Regions from separate parts of the Homo sapiens genome. Here regions 2, 3 and 4 are each linked to region 1. Evidence: fine-mapped expression QTL. A gene starts in region 1. Each other region holds a variant in brackets. All regions are shown on one strand. Distances are between the middles of the regions. Region 1 holds the start of NOC4L (nucleolar complex associated 4 homolog). Region 2 holds the start of LOC105370091 (a long non-coding RNA gene). Region 3 overlaps LOC101929974 (a long non-coding RNA gene). Region 4 overlaps EP400 (E1A binding protein p400).

Evidence for each region. PIP is the estimated chance that this variant, and not a neighbour inherited with it, causes the effect. A credible set is the group of variants that fine-mapping cannot tell apart.
Region 2: its variant is the best candidate, but not a certain one, in a credible set for the expression of NOC4L in whole blood (Lepik 2017, PIP 0.66).
Region 3: its variant is the best candidate, but not a certain one, in a credible set for the expression of NOC4L in subcutaneous fat (GTEx, PIP 0.76).
Region 4: its variant is the best candidate, but not a certain one, in a credible set for the expression of NOC4L in atrial appendage (GTEx, PIP 0.73).

What each region holds. Positions count from the first base shown.
Region 1 is chr12:132,141,724-132,146,914 of GRCh38, reverse strand. It overlaps NOC4L (nucleolar complex associated 4 homolog), which reads right to left and starts at 2,458. Exons shown (of 15, transcript NM_024078.3): 1 at 2,310-2,458; 2 at 1,941-2,061; 3 at 1,250-1,356. The coding sequence starts at 2,426. It overlaps DDX51 (DEAD-box helicase 51), which reads left to right and starts at 2,596. Exons shown (of 15, transcript NM_175066.4): 1 at 2,596-2,922; 2 at 3,006-3,220; 3 at 4,037-4,187; 4 at 4,493-4,638; 5 at 4,725-4,796; 6 at 4,959-5,065. The coding sequence starts at 2,619. RefSeq lists enhancers at 2,376-2,675, 3,605-4,510 and silencers at 2,686-2,735, 2,806-3,005.
Region 2 is chr12:132,196,420-132,201,610 of GRCh38, reverse strand. GALNT9 (polypeptide N-acetylgalactosaminyltransferase 9) reads left to right here. Exons shown (of 11, transcript NM_001122636.2): 8 at 350-487; 9 at 2,342-2,437; 10 at 3,652-3,819; 11 at 4,358-5,191. The coding sequence ends at 4,504. It overlaps LOC105370091 (a long non-coding RNA gene), which reads right to left and starts at 2,348. Exons shown (of 6, transcript XR_007063541.1): 1 at 2,246-2,348; 2 at 1,659-1,917; 3 at 324-430; 4 at 1-172. The variant C/T (reference allele first, on the strand shown) is at 2,614.
Region 3 is chr12:131,469,633-131,474,823 of GRCh38, reverse strand. LOC101929974 (a long non-coding RNA gene) reads left to right here. Exons shown (of 4, transcript NR_187799.1): 2 at 366-517. Among named protein-coding and RNA genes, the nearest start is that of LINC02370, 120 kb to the right of the region's middle. The variant C/T (reference allele first, on the strand shown) is at 2,258.
Region 4 is chr12:132,025,209-132,030,208 of GRCh38, reverse strand. It overlaps EP400 (E1A binding protein p400), which reads right to left. Exons shown (of 53, transcript NM_015409.5): 25 at 4,405-4,563; 26 at 2,678-2,772; 27 at 1,921-2,192; 28 at 306-508; 29 at 51-220. Among named protein-coding and RNA genes, the nearest start is that of SNORA49, 3.5 kb to the left of the region's middle. RefSeq lists a silencer at 1,911-2,205. The variant A/T (reference allele first, on the strand shown) is at 2,493.

The sequences.
Region 1 (5,191 bases):
GCCCAACTCAGACCCAGGCTTGGAAGCTCTCATCTCGGGGTGGCAAACTCAGTGCTTTCAGGGCCCAGGCAAATGACACCACAAAGCAAAAGAGCCTCGTGCGGGATGACAGGAGCACACGGCTGTCTCAGAGCTGTCTCTGACTCTCCCTCCAGCCAATCGCAGCCATGAACAAACTTAGACCCCGTGTTGACAGAACTGATTATTTCTTTCTGAGAAGGTGGAAACTGGTTATTTTCACGTGGTATCTCCCCAACATTTAAAAGTCTGCAGCTCGGCTATAATTATAGACAGACGTGTTGGCGAGGATGTGGAGTATGGAACTCTCAAATGCTGCCAGGGGGAGGGTAAGATAGCGCAGCTACTATGGAAAACAGTCTTGTAGTTCCTCAGAACATTAAAAACACAGCTGCTGTGTGGCCTTGTAATTCCACTGATAAGGCATATTCAAGCAAAAGAAACATCACACAAGAGTTTGTACGCGAACGTTCACAGTCCGCTGTTCGTAACAGCCAAAGGTGGAAACGACGCAAATGCCCAGCAACCTACGAGCGGCTGAACGATACGTGCTGTGCTATACGACGCGCTGCTACTCAGCCACAAAGAGAACGAACTTCGAACACGCCGATGAGTGGAAGAAGCCACATACCGTATGATCCCCCTTATGAGGAGCGTCTAAAAAAAGCAAACCCATTGATCCAGGAAGTAACCACTGATCCAGGAGTGGCTGCCTGGGGCTGGGGGTGGAAAGGGGCGGGATATGGAAGCGATGGTAACTGGTACAGGATTTCTTTTCGGGGCGATAAAGATGTTCTGGGATAGCGGCAACCACTGCACAACACAGTAACAGATGCTAACTTCTCAGCTTTAAACGGTAAACTGTGCCTCAGTTATTCCTCACTACAGATTTTAAGAAAGCTCATAATGCATTCCCATGGCTGCAGACCACAGTGTGATCTGAGCAAACACATCTGTGGACTGGCACGAGGCTTGGTGTGCGTGCTCTATGCAAACACAGAGATCCCCGTGGATGCCACTGGAAATGAACACGGATTCTGCGTCTTCAATATTCACTACAGGACTCGATAGCCATGTTTCTGAATGGGACTGAACACCCACAGGGTGATGCTCCCATGAAGGAAGCAGCTTTGCCTGGACAATTGTGGGAGCCCCAGACCTCTGCTTTGTGGATAACCTGGGAGTTGGGGTGCAGGGGATGGACAAGGATGAGGCCAGCCCAATGACCCACCTTGACCTGAAAGGAGGGGTGGCCCAGGAGCTCTCCCAAGCGATTGCAGCAGCTGTGATAGCGGTGTCTCATCCACACCTTGTACTTCCGTGTGGCTCCCTGGGACCCTGCAGACAGGTTAGGGTGGTCAGCCCACGTGAGGCCCACATACGCCACCCTGGGCCCAGCCCAAAATCTCAGGCCTGGCTCCACCCTCCCATTGTCTTCTACTCAGCCTCCGCAGGTGGAAACAGGTCGCTAAGGCCCCCAGACCTGTGCTGAGACCAGCACATTCCCTGAGCCCTGCAAACAGGAAGAGCACCTCCTACCCCAGGACTGCCCCAGCCAAGCTGCCAGGAGCAGGATCCACATCCCCTCTCTTTACTCCAAGACCTGACGTCCCCAGGATGGGGACATAAAGGAAGCTCCGAGTTTAAGCGACCGTGTCAGGATCAGTCAACATCAAATTACAAAAGGGGTGCAAAGCACACAAAAAGTCGTACCTTGTCCAGTGTTCATCTACACTCAGCTGCAGGGCACCCATGTCACCCCTGCCCCAACGCCACCATCCATCTTCCACGGTGGGCTTGGTGCGTCCTCCCACCAGCCTGCACGGCCTGTGCCAGGGTTGGGGGCGCTCATCCCATGGTGACAAAGCCTCCCTCCGACCCACGGAAAGAGAAGAGCAGCCCCGGGGCCCTCCAGGGCTCACCTGTCATGACCATCTCCTCAGAGGGCAGCTGGCCCACAAACAGCTCTCCCCGCTCCAGCAAGGCCCCGAAAAGACGGCTGCACGTGCGGACTGCTTCCTGGATCTCCTCCTGGTCCTCAGACTGCAGGAGAGGCGGCGGCAGGGTGCCCGGCCGCCAACTGTCACCTTCGCCCCTGCCTAGGCTGCCCCCAACCCGTTCCCTTCCCCCTCGGGACGCCAGCCCCGTCACCCCCGACCCGTGACCCACACGCCTCCCACCCTGACCCCCCAACGCCGTCTCGGAACCTCCTGGGGACCTGCCGCCGCAGCCCCCCATTCAAGTCCCGCTCCCGTGCCGCGACTCCGGCCCTGCGACGCCGCCAGGCCCACCTGCAGCACGGCCAGGATGTCGAACACGGCGTTGGCCTCACTGCGGCTCGCCAGCACCGCCTCCAGCCGGCGGCCCAGAGCCCGGCGAACTCCCGCGGCGCCCGGCTCCCGCTCCATGCCGCCCCCAACACGGAACAACGCGGATTCTCAGCCGCCGGCGCTCCCGTGACGTCACCACTGCGCGTAGAACCCGACGTCATCTCTACGCGCCGTACCCCAACCCCATCTTTTGCGCGGAGCCCGAGTCGCAGGCGTGCCGCCGACGTCATCGCAGCGCGCCACGCCCGAGTCCCAGGCGTGCGGCTGGCCATGGCGCTGTTCTACGTCGCGCGGTACCCGGGCCCCGATGCGGCAGCTGCGGCGGGGCCGGAGGGCGCGGAGGCCGGGGCGCACGGCAGGGCCCGCGCGCTGCTCGAGCGGCTGCAGAGCCGGGCCCGCGAACGGCAGCAGCAGCGGGAGCCCGCGCAGACCGAGGCGGCTGCATCGACCGAGCCGGCGACCAGGAGGCGACGGCGGCCCCGGCGGCGGCGGCGGGTGAACGACGCGGAGCCGGGGAGCCCGGAGGCGCCGCAGGGAAAGCGACGGAAGGCGGACGGCGAGGACGCGGGCGCAGGTGGGCCGCGGGGCGAGCGGGCTCCCTCTGGGGCGCCGGCGACTCGGTGCTGACGCGCTGCCGGGTGGGTGTCTGCCTCGCAGAAAGCAACGAGGAGGCGCCAGGGGAGCCCAGCGCAGGGAGCAGCGAGGAGGCGCCAGGGGAGCCCAGCGCAGGGAGCAGCGAGGAGGCGCCGGGGGAGCGCAGCACCAGCGCCAGCGCCGAGGCGGCCCCAGATGGACCGGCCCTGGAGGAGGCGGCCGGACCCCTGGTCCCCGGCCTGGTGCTGGGGGGGTTCGGGAAGAGGAAGGCGCCGAAGGTGAGCCTCGGCGGGCGGGAGGGTGGTCGGCGTGAGAGGGTAGGCTGCGCGGATTCTTAAGTGCGGCGGTCGCCCCGGAAGATTTCGTTCAGCGAATGTTCCCGGGTCACAGCCGCGCCTCGCTGCCAGGTCTGCAGTTTCATCGCCTAGGGGTCTGGATCCTGCACGTGCAGAGCTCCCGTTTCCTCTGCTAGGCTTGCCCCTGTCCTCCCGCCGCGCCGCGCCAGTTCTGCAAGATGTGTTTGCGTGAACGTGCGGGGTTTCCTGCTGTGCGCTCACCGCCTCAGGAGTAAGTCAGAGGCCGTTCTGCAAGCTCCTGACCGTTGGTGTTTTTGCTTAGCACGTGTGGTTTTCGGTAAAGAGATTTCCGGCGAGACAGGTGAAGAAAGCGAGAAGTTTGACAGAGTGCTCGGGCACCTTAGGTAGGGCAGGTGGAGGAGGTTCTCTTTGAGTTGGGATGCAAAGACTTGAAGCCAGGTCAAGGTTGGGGGTTGGGGGTGCCAGGCAGAGGCCTCGAGGCAGGGACGCCGGCGTGGCTGGGGCAGGCGAGCGCCAGGTCACAGGACCTCCTGGCTGCGGGAGGGTGGGTGCCACTGTGGGTTGATGGGAGGCTACAGAGTGAGTTTGCTCAGGGAGTGGCATCTGCTTTTACTGTTTAACTTCTGAAGGCTGTATGGAAAGCGCATCCTGGGGCTGAGAAGGAGCTGAAGACGACAGAGGTTTCCCCAGCCTCCCTCCCCTAGCTTTTTCCACCGTGGGCTTCTGCGCGAGAGCCTGGAAAGCGCTCACCTGGCCTCTCTTTCTTTTTGATGGCAGGTCCAGCCTTTCCTGCCAAGGTGGCTGGCTGAGCCTAACTGTGTCAGAAGGAATGTCACCGAAGACCTGGTTCCTATCGAGGACATCCCTGACGTCCATCCTGACCTGCAGAAGCAGCTGCGGGCACACGGCATCTCGTCCTACTTTCCAGGTGCCCCAGCCCCGGGCAGGCAGCTGAGGGAACACCTCCCTGGGCACCCACACACAAGGCTGTGAGTGGCCGTGGGTCAGGCGTCCCTGCCACATCGGTGCCAAGTGTGGTCTCAGCACTCTCAAGCTCATGGTTCCCACTTGGGTCTCCTGAGGCTGGCGTTCCTCTGGGCCTTGGTGCCATCCCTCTGGGGAGCGGTTCCCAGGCCTCCAGCAGAGCAGCCCAGCCCAGAGGTCACAGGCAGGGAAGCGGCAGGCCTAGGCCTAGGCGTAAACACGACTTCTCTCTCGCCTTTCCTCATCCAGTCCAGGCAGCTGTGATTCCTGCCCTCCTGGAGAGCGCAGCCTGTGGGTTTCTGGTGGGCAGAGGTGGCTACCGGCCTAGCGACCTCTGTGTTTCTGCCCCAACAGGCAGTGGGAAGACACTGGCCTTCGTCATCCCTGTGGTGCAGGTCTGTGTGAGGGTCCCCTTTCTCTACAGCGGGTGTGCAGAGGACAGGTAACAGCCTTGCTGACGCAGGCGCTCCTTCCCCCTCAGGCCCTGCTTTCGAGAGTGGTCTGCCACATCCGTGCCCTGGTTGTGCTGCCCACCAAGGAGCTGGCCCAGCAGGTATGTGGACCCTAGACCTGGAGCGTGGCACCGCCCGCCTCAGCTTCCCTGCTGAGTGCACAGCGATCAGCCCCTGGGGGACCCAGATTAGATCTGGGGTCCTTTTTGCTGCAGTAGGTGGACACCAGCTACCTCCAGGCCAGTGACAGACTTCTCCTGCAGGTGAGCAAAGTTTTCAACATCTACACAGATGCCACACCTCTGAGAGTCTCCCTGGTTACGGGACAGAAGTCTCTGGCCAAGGAGCAGGAGAGCCTCGTCCAGAAAACGTAGGTTGTGTCAGGGTGCGGGTTTTTCAGGGGGTCCCTGCTCAGCCCTGCAGGTGGCCTGAGGCACCGTGGGAGCAGAGGAGGGGCCACCATCTTTAACCACCTGTTCCCGTGAAGAGGAGGAGC
Region 2 (5,191 bases), 55 kb before region 1:
GGTCAGGCTGATGCCGTGCAGTAAGGCCAGGTGAGCAGGGCCGTCTTCTCAGGCAGGAGGTTCCTGGGCCCGGGTGGGTGTGGACGAGCCGGCTGCAGCAGGGGCCGTCTGTCCAGGCCGGGGCTGGCCTCTGGCAGGGTCCTTCCCATCAGGAGCAGCTGCCTCAGACCCTCTGTGGATATTAGGAGGCTGGGGGGTCCCAACTGGATGGGGCCTCAGCATCTGAATACTGGGGGGGAGGCTGCTCCTGTGAGGGCACTTGGTCCCTGGAGACCCCCAACCTCATTATGGGGAAGACCCAGGTCATGGTGACACCCATGTACCCTCTCACCTACTTCTGGCCTTGCAGAACCCAGGGGTGGACTTCGGGGACGTGTCTGAGAGGCTGGCCCTGCGTCAGAGGCTGAAGTGTCGCAGCTTCAAGTGGTACCTGGAGAACGTGTACCCGGAGATGAGGGTCTACAACAACACCCTCACGTACGGAGAGGTAGCACCTCCCCCGAGGGCCCCGTTCGGCCCGACAGGCTTTCTGCCCTGACTCCTGCACACGTATGCATTCAGGGTGATGCAGGCACATCCACATGCACACGGAGAGGTAGCGCCTCCCCCAGAGGGTCCCACTCGGCCCGACAGGCCTTCCGCCCTGACTCCTGCACACACGTGTGCATTCACGGTGATGCAGGCACATCCACGTGCACACACAAGGTGCAGGTTCACATAAACACACGCACCTGCAGACCCACATGTCCATACACACCCATTCCTTCACATGGACCTCCCTAGAGGCAGGCAGGTGTGTAGTCACATCCATGCGTGTTCACATGCCTGATTCAATGTACCTACGCTCTCACGTATGTGTACATAGGGATACATGCACTCACCTAGATGTGTGTACAGAGACATTCACAGGCAGGTACGTAAATCCATGCAAACACTCATATGTACAAGAGCACGCGGACACGAGTATACATTTGCACCCAGTTTTGCTAATGTACACAGCTCTTCCTACACAGATGTATGTTTCACTAAGTGCATGAACCCCAAAGGCGCCTGCCTGTGCACAGATAAACACACAGGCCCTTGTTATCAAGCAAAATAATGTGTGTGTGTACACGTCTGTGCATCCACATATGCGGAGCCACGTTCATACACCAGCGTGCATGCATGAAGGTGCCCCCACAGATGCACACAATGGGTGATATGCACACTCACACAGGCCCATCAGCTACACAGAGACCCCCGTCTCCACTGGCCCCCACATGCACAGCACTCCGTAAAGCCAGCGAGAAGGTGCTGCTCTTCTGCCCTCTCCCCAGTCTGTGCAGGGGATGGGGTGCCTCCCACCATGAGACTCGAGCGTCCCAGCCCTGAGCTGGCACTCGGATGGGGCAAGGAAAAGGGTCCCTGGGGTGGATGGTCCTCGCTGAGCCTCCCCTCCTGCAGCTCCTGGTCCACCCTGCGCTGACTCCAGTCCCTTGGGCACAGAGGTTTCCCAGGCAGTGCTGAGTGTGCATCGGGGCACCGCCCCTCTCCCCCAGCCTCCCTGTGCTTCTACTCTGCCCACTCCATCCTCAATTAGCCAAGTGCAGGCACCCCCAACCCAGAGCAGCCGTAACATCCAGACTCTGCTGGGCTTCCTCAACGGTCCCAATTCAAACCTGTGTGACCTCTCGTGGTGGCCGTGGTGGATGGGTCAGCTGCTGCTGCAAACCCAGCAGCCTGGAGACGCGGTGGACAAAAGCAATAAGCATCTACACTTGCTCACGAGCCGGGGCCACCCAGGCAGTGCTGCTGGCCTGATCCAGGCTGTGCTGATCTCCGATGGGCCTGTTCTGGAGGCTGGAGGTTGGCTGCCCGATGACAACACATCCCCCAGCAGTCTGGCCCGGGCTTGTTCTCAGAGGGCTGTCAGGGTTCCTTCCAAGACAGAGTGGAAGCTGGAAGGTCTCCCAAGGGTCCAAGCCAAGGCCAGCCTAGACTGCAAGGCTGGCGAGCGGTCTCTACCCACTCAGTGGGAGCCGCAAGGGCACAGGGAGCAGGCGGCAAGGCAGGGAAGCCACTCCACAGCCTGGGGCCGTCGTCCCTGCTGCTCAAGTGTTCCCCTATGGAGTGATGGCCAAGTCTCCATCTGTGCATGGCGGACACTTCCATGTCTCCATCAGTGACAAACTCGGTCAGCCACCCCTTCCCAGGCAGCCCACCCGGCCAGAGCATCCCACACGCCCCCTCCTCCTCCCGCGGGCACCTCCTTAGGTGCTGGCTGCAGAGCTGGCTGCGTGAAGCTCCCTGGGGCCGCACCCTCGGGTGACTCTGGACTTTCTCCTGGGGCTTCTGCTTGCAGGTGAGAAACAGCAAAGCCAGTGCCTACTGTCTGGACCAGGGAGCGGAGGACGGCGACCGGGCGATCCTCTACCCCTGCCACGGGATGTCCTCCCAGGTAGGAGTAGCAGCGGCCACCCATGCAGCTCCCAAGGGGACGACCCCAGGCCACCCGGACCCTACACCCTGGGGCAGAGGCACGGGTCCAGCCTGCTGGGGTGTTCTGAGGCCACCAGGGCTGCATTCCAGGGCTTGGAGCAGCCTGAGGGCCCCTCTAGAAGAGGCCTCCCAGCC[C/T]GCCCCACCTGGAAGGTAGCAGAACACGGGGAATTGAAAACAGCCTGGGCCGGGTGCAGTGGCTCACGCCTGTCATCTCAGCACGATGGGAGGCCAAGGCAGACAGATCACTTAAGCCCAGGAATTGAGACCAGTCTGGGCAGCGTGGCGAAACCCTGTCGCTACAAAAAATACAAAAATTAGCCGGGCATGGTGGGGCATGCCCGTATTCCCAGCTGCTCGGGAGGCTGAGGCAGGAGGATCACCTGAGCCTGGGATGCGGAGGTTGAGCTGAGATCACACCAGTGCACTCCATCCTGGGCAACAGAGCGAGACCGTATCTCAAAAAATTAAAAAGGAACCAGGCCTTTGGGGTCAGATGGGCTGGGGGTGCATCACTCCCCCCTCAGTCAAGAGAGACGGCAACAGCACTTACCGCTCAGGACTGTCGCGTGATTGAAGCGAAGTGTGGGAAGCATTGGCTCGGGGGGTGGATTAACACGGCAATAGTGCTGTTGACCTCCGAGCACTCCCCACCTGGGCAGGACTCACCTGCAGCACAGGCCCAGGCCCAGCCCCAGCCCCAGCCCCGCAGAATCACAGTGGTCAGGGGCTGGCCGTAGTGAAGGTCCAGGCCATTCTGACCATGACCCCCATAAGGAGCTGGACGTTTCTAACCCCACGGGAATGCGTGTTCCGCTCACACACGGCACTGCATGTTGCCCAAATTAAACCCAACTCCTGTCCTCCCCGAAACGAGTGGGGCCGCGCTCTGGGTCTGAGCCACATTCATGACGTCTGTCCAGGCGGAAGACCAGCCAGCTGTGCAAGCCGGGAGCCTGGCCCTGCGGAGCATTTGGGCGCCGTCCAGCCCGCATCCCCACGTGGGCCCTGCCCGGCGGTCCTCTCCCGCCCGCAACAGCGTCCCCGGGGTGGGAGGCTCCAAGGCAGCCGCGCAGGGCCCCGTTTGCAGCTCAAGGCAGCTCGCACGGCCTGTCAGTGCTCACTGGGGAGAGCCTGGGCGCTGCTCACACACAGTCCCGGTGGTCCTGTCCCCAGCTGGTGCGGTACAGCGCTGATGGACTGCTGCAGCTGGGGCCTCTGGGCTCCACAGCCTTCTTGCCTGACTCCAAGTGTCTGGTGGATGACGGCACGGGCCGCATGCCCACCCTGAAGAAGTGTGAGGATGTGGCGCGGCCAACACAGCGGCTGTGGGACTTCACCCAGGTCAGCCTCTGGGGAAGGGGGGCCGTGGGGTTGGGGCGGGGCAGGGCTGCTGGGACCCCTGGGTGCCTCTGCCACTAGAGCCAGCCCATTGGGTGGGAGCTGGAGTGCGGCAGGGGGTGGTCAGGGGACCGGGCCTTGGATCAGCTGTTCCCTTATGGGCCCCGACGCTCACAGAGAGGGCAGGTGACTGGTCAGGGTCACACAGCCAGAGAGGGGTCGGGCTGGACAGTCTGATCATAGCCCTGCATCTGCCTCTTCCAGCCTCAGGTGCCCAGGGTAGAGGGAGGATTTAGGAAGGGGATGAGGTATGATTCCAACCTGGGCCGCTAGCCCTGCAGGAAAGATGGGAAATCCTCGAAGCTCCACTGAAGTCAGCCCCTTCCCGGCCCCCCTGGGTGCTGCTGTGATGCTGGCTTTCCATTCAAGCTGCCCCAAGAATGAGCACGAGGGCTGAGAGCACGAAGCAGCCTCCCTGAGGTGGGGGGAGGGGGAACAAGGACGCCTGCACCTGGCTGACTTGATGTGCCTGTCCCCACAGAGTGGCCCCATTGTGAGCCGGGCCACGGGCCGCTGCCTGGAGGTGGAGATGTCCAAAGATGCCAACTTTGGGCTCCGGCTGGTGGTACAGAGGTGCTCGGGGCAGAAGTGGATGATCAGAAACTGGATCAAACACGCACGGCACTGACCCCACCTCCGCCCGGACCCCCACAGACCTCGGGAAGGCGCTGGGCCGAGCCAGTGTGGCTGAGTGACCGGGGTGTGCCCGGCAGACACAGCAGGACAGGGCTCTATGTGCGGCCAGGACAGCAGAGGCTGAGGGGCCGGGGTGTGGCTGAGTGACCAGGGTGTCACCCACTGCATCTGGAGTACAGCTTCTCCTAGGACAGGCGGCTCTACCCGAGGGAGGGCGTCTGGGGACAGTGATGCCAACTCAAACACGTGCCTTCTCCACGGTATCTCCTGGCCAGGCTGCTGGGACAGCCGCCGCCTCTGCATGTACCACAGCCCCCCACGCCCCATAGGGAGGCCAAGCCCCGGACCATGCACCAGGCTGCACCCTGGTGTCTTCCACCCGCAGGCCTCCCATGCTCCAAGCAGCCTCCCCCAGCACTTGCGGCCGCTCAGCCCTCCAACCAAGACCTAAGTCACACATCATAATGCAGCTCCTTGTGGTCTGGTAAGAGGGGTGCTGGAGGACATGGACAGCGACAAACCTGAGGCCGTGTCTAGGAGGCTGGCACGACTGCTTCAGCAGAGACCAAATAAAGAGAGGATTAGGCAGCAGCACTGTGTGTGTCTTCCTGGGAGCCGAGCTGGGGGTTGGGGCCCGGTCCCACCTCTTTCCCAGGCACCTGGGCCCTGCCGCAGCCCA
Region 3 (5,191 bases), 670 kb after region 1:
AGCCGCCCGTGCTCCTTGCTCCAGCCTGAAGCACCCAGGAGGACCCAGCAGCAGGTCAGGAGCAGTGACAAGCTCCTGAACCGTGGAAATGAGTCTGGTTTCGATCGATTTCCTCGGGGTCTCTGCGATATCCTCGGGGCCTCTGGGCTTGGGTGTGATCAGTTTCTGCCCTGGATCAAATAGCTGGAGGGGAGAGCTGGCCTCAGATGTGCACTGGCGGCCAGAATGTTCCCCAGAGTCACACAGGGCCAGGCCTGCAATGCAGCATTTGCTCAGCGGCTGACCCATTCTGTGCACTAGGAGGCTCCTCGCTCTCAGAAACAGTCACTCCTCCCTCCCACGTGACGCAGCCTGTGCATTTTCAGGTGAGGGACGGCCGGTGTCATCGTTGGAGCTTCCTAAGAGTCCCAGAGGCTGATGCACCTCCCAGACTCTCCTCGGCCCGGCTCCCTGGGCCCTGCTCCAGGGGCTTCATTGCTCCCTGCCCCGGGTCACCCCTCGGCTCACCGTCTCTCAGGTAGGCGTCTTCACATCAGATTTGTGGCTTTTCTGTTAAAATCCTTCACAAACTGGCTGTGCCCTGGTGGGCGGGGCCCAGGGCTGAGCAGGGGCGGCTCCAGGGTCAGATGGACTCGGGCTGACTCGGGCTCCACCAATTCTGAGTGTGGGAATCGGGGACCCTTCTACCCTCGCTGAGCCTCAGTCTCCTCATCTGTAAAATGGGGATAAGGGCGCCTGCCTCCTGGGACATGCTGGGGAGTCAGCTTAGCCCCGGGACCCATGGGCACTCACTCAGGTGTTGCTGTTACCTTGCTGCTGGTGAGATGGAAGGAGCAGCCGATTCGCGCAGAGAAGGAAGCAAAACGCTCTCTCGTGGTTATGGGCATCTTGCAGTTGATCTCACAGGGACAGGCATTTCCTGTTGGGAAGGATGTGGCTCTACTGGGCTCTGCTGTGAACCTGGGTGAACCTCGTGGCCTCTCAGCTTGGAATGTTGAGGATTTTAAACCCACTTGGATGTTTCACCCTTGGCTGTCCCAGGAAAATTCTTTTTTTCCTTTAATTTTGGCAAATAGCTACTGTAAAAAGCCAAGAGTTAAATGTATGTTCCCCTTATCTCTTATACCAGCTCGCTGCCCCTTGGGGTCTTCAGTGGGAAGCCCAGACCTGCTGTCCTGAGGCTATATCTGGGTGAGGAGCCCGGGAGCGGCCGTGCATGCCTGAGCTCCCATTGGCGTAAATGGGGACACAGACAGGCGCCCCGTCCACCTGTCCTGTCCCTGCTAAGTGTCGGCCTCCTCGCTGAGTGGGGCCCCATCAGTGGCTTTTCAGATGAGTCAGGGATGCTCCAGGCAGAGCTGCTGTCACTCCAGGTGGAGCCCTTGTCTGCGGGGAGCTGCCCCTCCTCGGGTGCCTGGAGAGGGCACGTATGTGCGGGGTGGTCAGTGTGGCTCAGGCCTCCACACTACCTGCCCCTGCTTCCCTCCTGCTGAGGCCGGGTGGACTCTGGGGGAAGGGACCCGTGCTCATGGGTTCACGGACACAGAGCAGGATGTGGGGCCAGAACATGAAATCCCTGCACAGACCCCTCGGTTCTTCCCACAGATCCTGTTTTTCATGCCCAAATCACCTGGACACACTTCTGTTGCCCCGGCTGGTTCCCAAAGTGGCCCTGATCCCCCCATCCAGGGCACTATCCTTACCACGTGCCTCTTCCCCCTGGCCAGCCCCCATCCCTGCCCCAGCCCACAGCTGCCCTGCCCAGGGGACTTCAGTCCCAGATCCACAGCGGCTCTTGGGAGTCTCGCTGGGAAGGCATGGGTGGGTCACTCCCATTTCCCACCATTCCACTGGAGCCTTCCTGGTTGATTCTGAGGTCCAGACCCCTGTCTCCTCATCTAGATGGGGACACCGAGGCTTCTGGGAGGTAGACAGTGCTGGGGGAACCATCAGGAGATCAGCAGCCAGGCCTGGACTCATGTGTTCTGGGACAGACTGGGGCCCTCCTGCCTGGCCTCTGGGGCCTCTCAGTCCAAGTCTGCAGCCACCTGTGGTCTGGAGGGCCACAAAGCTCATGGTTTGCAATCCCAGCCATTTCTTTTCTAAATCAGTAAATCCTGACCTCTGTGGACACCGCCATCACTGCCAAAATCAGGTCAAAGGCAGCTCCCTTGTGCACAGAGCAGGTCCACTTCTGCTGCTGACAGGTGGGAGTCCCGATGCCCTGGGGTCCTATCAGCCACACCCCTGTCTTCAC[C/T]GCAGGGCTGTGTGTGCACCCCTCACTTTGCTGATGACCAGAGGCTCCCCGGACACGGAAGCCAGATATCACCATGCTCATCCCTAGAGCAGCCGTGCGGGGCATGGAGCAGCAGAGCTCAGAGCTTATGCAGGGCTGATGCGGGGAAGCTGGTCTCCCCATGCTGCAGTCCCCATGGGGGAAGGAGCTCACCTGAAGGGGGTGCTCTCATTGGCTGGGAGCCTCCACTGACTCCACAGCACTCTCCTGACTTGTGCCAGATGCCTTTGAAACAGTCACTGGGCTGAAAAGTGACCAGAGCATGGGGTCGAGCTGTGAAGATGAGTTGGCCCTGGTTGTGGACGGTGAGGGAGGGAGCAGCGCTGGCCTGGGCTCTGGCAGCCCTGCTGAGTCCATCTCCCTGAGGATGAGCCGGGCTGGGCCGGGGCTGGCACTCCGTGATGTGGAACGGGGTGTGTTGGGGGAGCCTTTGCTGGGAAGGACTCCTGCTGAGAGGAGCCGTGTGTCGTGGAGGCTGTGGTTCCGAATCTCTCAGTGGGTGTGATTCTCTGCTTATTCGAATTAACTAAACTGTAAATCATGCCTGCCACATCCCATTCCCATTGGTTTCCGTGGATTCGCTGCTCATTTCTTGTTAGAAAGTGCTGTGGGCATCAGGAGTAGCTCAATAAGCAAAATGAAGCAGGTGCGGCAACTTCAGACAACCGAGTGTCCGCTGGGCTCTGCCTGCAGGTGTCTCCTTTTCATGAAACCAATTTGGCCCTGGTCAGCCCATTATGATAGGGAGGGTGGGGTTCGCTCCTGGGGATGGAGGGGCCGGCTCTGGGAGGATGAACCGAGGCACAAACAAGATGACATGGCTGTGCCAGGTGTTCCTGCCCAGGTGCCTCTGACATTGCAGGTGCCACGCTGCGTGGTCCTGCTCCATCCACGTCCTCCATCCCAGGACAGATGCTCTTCTCTGTTCAAGCCCAGAGGGGACAAAGTTCACCGTGACCTCATTTCCCTTTAATGCTTGGGCAGTTTCCTTCCTAAAGCACGTCTTGGCGTGGCTACACCACTCAGGGGCCTTCGCCTGTCTACAGCTCCAGGGAGGTATGGAAAAGTGTGACCACGGGCACAGCAGGAGCTCTGGGAGAGCAGGAGCAGGCCCTGGCAGCACCGCTGGCCCCGTCCTGCCTCCCCTGCACCACTGTCTCCTCTCCTGACTCCTCCTCCGCCTCTGTCGTGGCTGCGTCCCCTCCCCTCTAGATGTTCCCAGGAGCTCCCGGCTCAAGGGAACTCCTCCCTAAGCCCACATTCTCTCCTGGCATGTCCTTTAGTTCTCCTCCAGTTTACAGCCACACTTTTCCAATCTCTTAAATGATGGGTTTTAAAATTAATTTTCACCAGGAAGAATATGCTGGGATTTTAAATGAATGTCCTCTTTCTCTAACAACTACCACTTAGACAGGAATCTCCATGTTCCCTGTGGGCAACCCCGTCTTCTGTGAACCTTCCAGAGATATGTTAAACACATACAGAAACACGGAGATGTTTGTGTTTTCTAAGATAATATAGCACAGCATGGACTTGTCTTCTTCAGAATTTTTTTTCATTGTTTTCCTTCCCCTACTGGTTTTTAGGATGGACATTCTGCATCTCTTGTCGCTTACCTTTTGACAAGTGCGTTTAATTCATTACACTTTCATTAATAGCCATCTCTGCCTCCTTTCTGAATTATGATTATTAATTTCAACTATTGCCCTCTGGCTGACAGGCTGTTAACATACAGTCTTCTAGCTGGGTTTGGTTTTATTTCCTCTGTCGATATTATTATTTAATAATTATTTACTATTGTACCATATACATCATTTTCTTTTCTCACTGTAACTTACTGTATTTCAAACTGCTTCTCAGTAAATTGTCTTCTTTATGCATTTCCTTCAGGAATTCTAGTAGGGAGAGGGTCCCTGGAGTTAATCCCTCCTTTTTCTGTATCTTTGAAAACAGTTCTAGTCTCATCTACCCCTCATATTTCCTACTTTCCATCTGGCCCTGTTCAGAAACGTGTGGCTCCCTCCGGGATCCCGGGAGATGGTGTCCTCCTAAGAGGTTGACCTGGAGTCACCTTGTAGGGCCTGTTCCTCCCCAGGCGCCCCTCAGGGACATCTCAGCTCCTCTCTCACCACCACCTGTAAATAGCCCTCTGTGGGGGCTGTGATAGATCCAGCTCATGGCTACAGGGCTTCACCCCTCCCTGTGGAGCCCCCACCCTCTGCCCTTGGCTTTGGGCTTGAGCCTGGGAGTGGCTCTGGCCAGCAGAAAGGGATGGAGACGGTGCAGAATCCCTCAGGCTTCCCGTGTCCACGTCCCTGGCTCCTCACCACACCGGAACAGGACTCCCGCCAGCAGCTGGGGAGACCGTTATCTAGTGCATCCTCTGAAGGCAGCAGGCTGCTGTGGGCTGAGGCGCTTTTTAGACACTTAGGAGATAATTCACAACTCATCAGGAACACCGCATCACTGCTTATGGGTGTCTCACGACTGCAGTAGGGAAAATAGGTCTCTTATCAGAAGATTAAGGAAGAAAGATTTTCTCCCTACAGACTCCTCCTGAGGAGCCATGCACATGGCGTTTACTCCCAATGGGCGATGGGATTTTCATCAGCTTTTATGTTCAGAAGGCAGGGCACACCTGGAAGCTGTTGTCGAGGGATGGCCTGATTGAGCTCGTGAGGCCCTGGGCGTGCGGGTAGGGTCCGTTCCTGATCAGGAGCGTTCTCAGCGTCGTGAGCAGCACAGGGCTCAGAGGCTCAGAGGTCCCCAGGAGGCAGGCCCTGCAGCGTGGGGCAAGGGATGGGCACAAATGCTGGGTGCGTGCTGTTGTTGCCCTGGGAGGCCTTGGCAGTGGCGGATCCAGTAGCACAGGCATCATTGGGTATGCTCCCTGCT
Region 4 (5,000 bases), 120 kb after region 1:
AACACCAGTGACTGACCCATCAGAGACAATGTAAACAATGTGCTTCTCACCTGCCGTTGCTCACTGCTGGCATTTTCATCGATTCTTACATAGGTGAGGTAATGGAAGTTCAAGAACATCTCTAAAATGTCCAACATAAGAATCATCTGTGATAAAATCAGCACCCGACGTCCTTCAGATTTCAATTTCTGAAGCAAGATAGCTAAAGCTTCCAACTTCCCTGGGAAACGAATCACATCAAGAGCGCCTCATCATCCAGGGCCGGTGCAGCTCCCGCACGGGCCACGCCCCCAACTGCCGCATACCTGAGTCGAACTGCACCAGCCTCAGCTCAGGGAACTGCAGCAGGCGTGGAGCCGTGGTCTGCCGCAGCTGCTGGAAGTACGGCGCAGCGTGCTCTCTCAGGCCCTGCCTCAAGATCCTCATTCTGTGGCTGTACAGGGGTGGCGGCCGCGGCACCCGTAGGGACGGGGGTGCTGCCACCACCGGAGGAATCACAAAGGCCACCCTGAGGAGCAGAAAGCATGTTTTGTCACCACCAGGAGCCACACACCTTCACCCAGCATGGGGGCTCCTGAAAGATGGGGCAGACTTCTGACAGTCCAAGTCCCAGGAAACAGCAGGGCTCAACCCAGTCACATGGGGATGTGGGTGTTGGCACACGGGCAGGGGCCCAACGAGGCAGATCCTAACCAGTCCTGGCCAATAACCACCACCTCGGGGACTAATTCAGACAGTCCAGGGCTGATGGATCAATGGGGGTGGATTCCCTAGGCCGCAGGCACCAGGTCAGAGATAAGCCATTCTCTTTCTAGTGTGTCTTCAGCTGGAAACTTTGGGACAAAGGTGCACTGTCTCGTGGACCCTAGAACTGCTATAGCCACTGTGCCACCAGGACGGGGGCCAGACTCAGGGTGAAGGAGCCTTCAGGACAATGACAATAGAGCGAAGATCGCACAGCCAACCTAAGGCCCACCTTGCAACCTGTGGAGGTCACCTGCACCAGAAGGCCCTTGCTATGGACATCAACTATGACTCACTCCCAGCTGTATTCAAACTGAACGAATGGTCACCCATGATGTTCAATGAGGGAGGAGTACACAAAGACAAATCAGTACTCGAAAGAAAAACTCCAGGAGCACAAGGTCACTGACATAGTCACTCCCAGACCAGGAGAAGCCAGAAGTGGCTTGTTCGGCCTTGGAGAAGCACTCCCAGTTTTCTTTTTTTCCATTAATTCTGCTTCCTGATCTGAAAGAACTGAAATAGGTAGATCCTGAAAGCTGAGCTGAGCCAAGGCACAGGAAGAAGCCAGGTTGCCCTCTGCAGACAGGAGACAACTGAGAACTACAACAGCTGCAAAGAAGGGAAGAAAACATGTCTGAAGTGGAGCCTGGAGATGGGGTCCAAGCAGGGAGTGGAAATGCAAACAGGGTAACGCACTCTACTGAAAGCAAGCTCAGTTGAGAGCGGCCGGGTGCCCACCGTGCCCACCGGTGCTCAGATTTGCTCTCCATTAAAGCACGTTCTGAGATCAACTCCTGCCCACATTTGTCATCATGTAATGTTCACTCACTCATGGGGCTCTTTTAATGCAATCATTTTTTGAAAGAGTCAAATGGAGAAAGTCCTTAGCAACACAGTGATCTGTCCCCAAGCACAGTGTGAGCTCAGTGCTGCGGCTCTGCCCCCAGGGCTGCCAACTTCCTTCAGAAGCCGCACCTGGCACTGAGACCCAGATAACAAAACCATCTGATCCCAAAGCTGAAGACCTCAAAGACTAACTTCAAAACAGACCGCTAAGGGACAGCGTGGGGAGAAGCCGATGGGAGTAAGATGTACATCCACGAGACAAGAAGGGGTCTTGCCGGGGTGCAATGCAGCCAGAGAGCACCGAAAAGGTCACGAGGTCTGCAGTACCTGTCAATAACATCCTGCAGAGACTCTCCACACCGACAAAGCGTCAACATCAGCTCACTTGGACTTTCTGAGGATGAAGTGTAACTGTGCGCTGGCCCGGCCTCCTTCCCACGACGGCCATCCAGGGACCCACGCCACTGTACCCTTCCATGGCTAGGCAGGGCACAAATCCTTAGCAAGTCTCTGCCATAGACTGGAGCTTGAGAACAGCGCCGCTCGTTGACTAAATAAATCTGATCCAGGCGCTCTTTCAAGAGTCTGGTCTTTTCCTCCTTTATCAAAAAGTGATGAAAAACAGTTACTTGAGAAACAGAATGACAAGTTCCTGTCTTCACCAACCCCCCACCCAGCCCGTGATTTCCCACATATGAGATCCACTTCAATATCCCCGGTCTTGTGTTACAGGAAATAGAGATAGAAATGAAGCCGAGAGCTACAGGAAATAGAGATGGAAATGAAGCCGAGAGCACAAGCGTTCTCTTCTTTGCCAAGATGGGAAGTATTTCTCAAGACACAAGTGAGCAATTCTAATGCCCAGGAAGACTTGCAGAAGGACATAAAAAATACAAAAA[A/T]AGATTGTGGCAGTCGTAAGTCCAGTTTCATTTATTTTATTAGAAAATGTGTGTTTTAAAATAAGAATTCAGTAACATCACTTGAGAATTCACAGGAGCCTTTAAATATCACAACCAAACACAACGAGCAGCTCTTGGAAAGCTACCTGTCCACGTGCACCGGGGTCTCAAGCTCAGGTGCTTACCTGGGTCGGCCCTCCAATGGGAGAAGCTGGTTTGGAGGCCGTTCCGGGTTCTCCTACAGCCAAGGCATTCACCGCCACGCGGCCCGGAACGCCAACTACAAATGCATAAAGGAAGAGGTGAAAAGGAACGCCAAGTTCACAGGATTTCATCTGACACCAGCATGCTCCATGGAACCTCACCCTCCACCAGCACACTCCACAGAAAGTCATTCTGCAACGGCATGTCCCCAAGTCCTCATCCTCCACCAGCACATGCCTGGAATGTGCATGGGCTCAAACTTAAATGCTTTAGACCTGCCACGGAAGCATGCTGGCTCGCAGGCCATGACTGGAGCTGAATGGAGCCAGCAGCTTATCCCTTTCTTTTGGGAGGCACTCCAGAGCCACCCAGAAGCATCCCAGCACACCTCCGAGGCCCTGGGTACCCCATCGCCATCAGCACATGGCCACCTCCTAGCCCAGGTGACCGCCTGATGACTGTGAGGCCCTTGCCTGCCATGAGCAGCCCAGCCCCGGCAGGAAGTCCACCCAGTCCTCACAACTGCAACAGAGCAAGCCAGTGCCCGTTTCATATCCGTTCCCTGGAGCTGCTCCTGACATGACACCTGCTACCAGCCAGGGCCAATCAGGAAGGCAGAAGCCATGCCACTTAGTGCGGCAGACTTTCCTACAAAGATGTGGTCAAAGAGGTGTCTGAGTGCTGAAAAGGGGCCCAGGGGTAAGAGTCACCTTAGGGAAAAACAAGAGGAGAGGCTGAGGTTGTCAGAACTCAGCACTTGGGGGTGGGGGTGTCTGAGCTCAGACCCTCAGGGTCCAGGACTCCAGTTGGTACTGGGGCCTCTGAAGCTGAGGAGGGCTTCCACGGGACAGTGACTCATCAGCCCGCAAAGAAGGGTGCAGCAGCTGGTTCTGGAATCCCCAAGATGCCTGGTTCTGGGGGTAGCGGCAAAACCTGGTGAGTGGAACTGCTGACCATGCTGGCATGCAGGACTGCTGCTAGGTGATGCTAACAGGACTGGAGAACAAGCCATGGCCCCTCCCCACTCCAGCCTTGCAGCCTCCTCTGATAACTAACAGAGCCTAACAGGTTGGCAGTGACCCACCCAACATCACTGCCCACTATGCAAAGGTGGGGCTGGAACTGAATGGACACCACTCGGCCACCAGGACAAGGGCTCCATCCCAAGGAGAGAGCCTCACCCCTCTAGGCTCCCACCTGCCTCCACGGGTCTCTGGGTTCCAGAGGACACACCACATCATGACAGAGCATGTCCAGAGAGACCTGGGGCCAAGGCAGGCACAGAGCGGGGACTCAGAGGTGAAGCAGGTGGCGAGACAGGATGAGGAGTGGCAGCTCGGGCCGGACAAAGAACCAGACCCTGCGTGGGCGGCCACACACTCCCACTCCCAGGGGAAACGGAGCACACTGGCGATATACAAACAAGCAAGATTTCTCATGATTCCAAATTTCTTGTGAGAACACAAACAAAACAAAAACCTAAGGACAGTGGAGGCTGGTTATATCCAACCAATACCTTTGAAAGCACAAGAAAAAGAAAATAAATCAGGCTGACACTAGGACACATCTATAGAAATCAGAGATGGCCACACACTAGACTGTGCTGTTCTGAGATACAGTCAAAGACACATGAATGCTTTCCACTCGCCTTAGATGGAAGAGAAAGAAGCATCCAAGCCAAGTCTCCCTCCTGCTCAGAGCACCCTACCTTGTGGGGTCAAGGGTGCAGGGCTGGGACCGCCGGCCGGGGGCTTGCTTCCCAGGGCGCCGTGCACAGCGCCCGCCTGAGACACGGTCTGCATCACCACAGGGCCAGGGGCTCGAAGGTAGGGCTGCCCGGGGGCGGACACGATCTGGAGGACGCTGCCTGCAATCATAGGTCCACTAGGTGTCAATGACAGGCATGTGTACATCACAGCCACACACTCCAGGCACTTCCAAACAGTACAAAAATAAGTTGACAAACTGAAAATCAAATCTACACAAAAAAATCAATGCAAAGTTCAGTTACTGTGAGGAAAGTGGCAACCCATCACCGACAGTGGATGACGACACACTAAGAGACAAGGTATCTTGCTCCATGTCAAGAAAAGGCCATCTACCCTCTGTCCCTCATGGAAGGTGGGTGACACACAGCTGCTGAGGACCTGCCATGCTGTTCGAGGTACTGAGGCGGACATCCCCACTCCCAGATCACAGCAGTCAAGGAGAATGAAGAAATAGAACAAAACCCTGTTTTTAGCCCAGATGCCTGTGGCTTTTCTGCTGCTGTTTAACGAGGCTGCCACTTTGGATCTTGTGTGA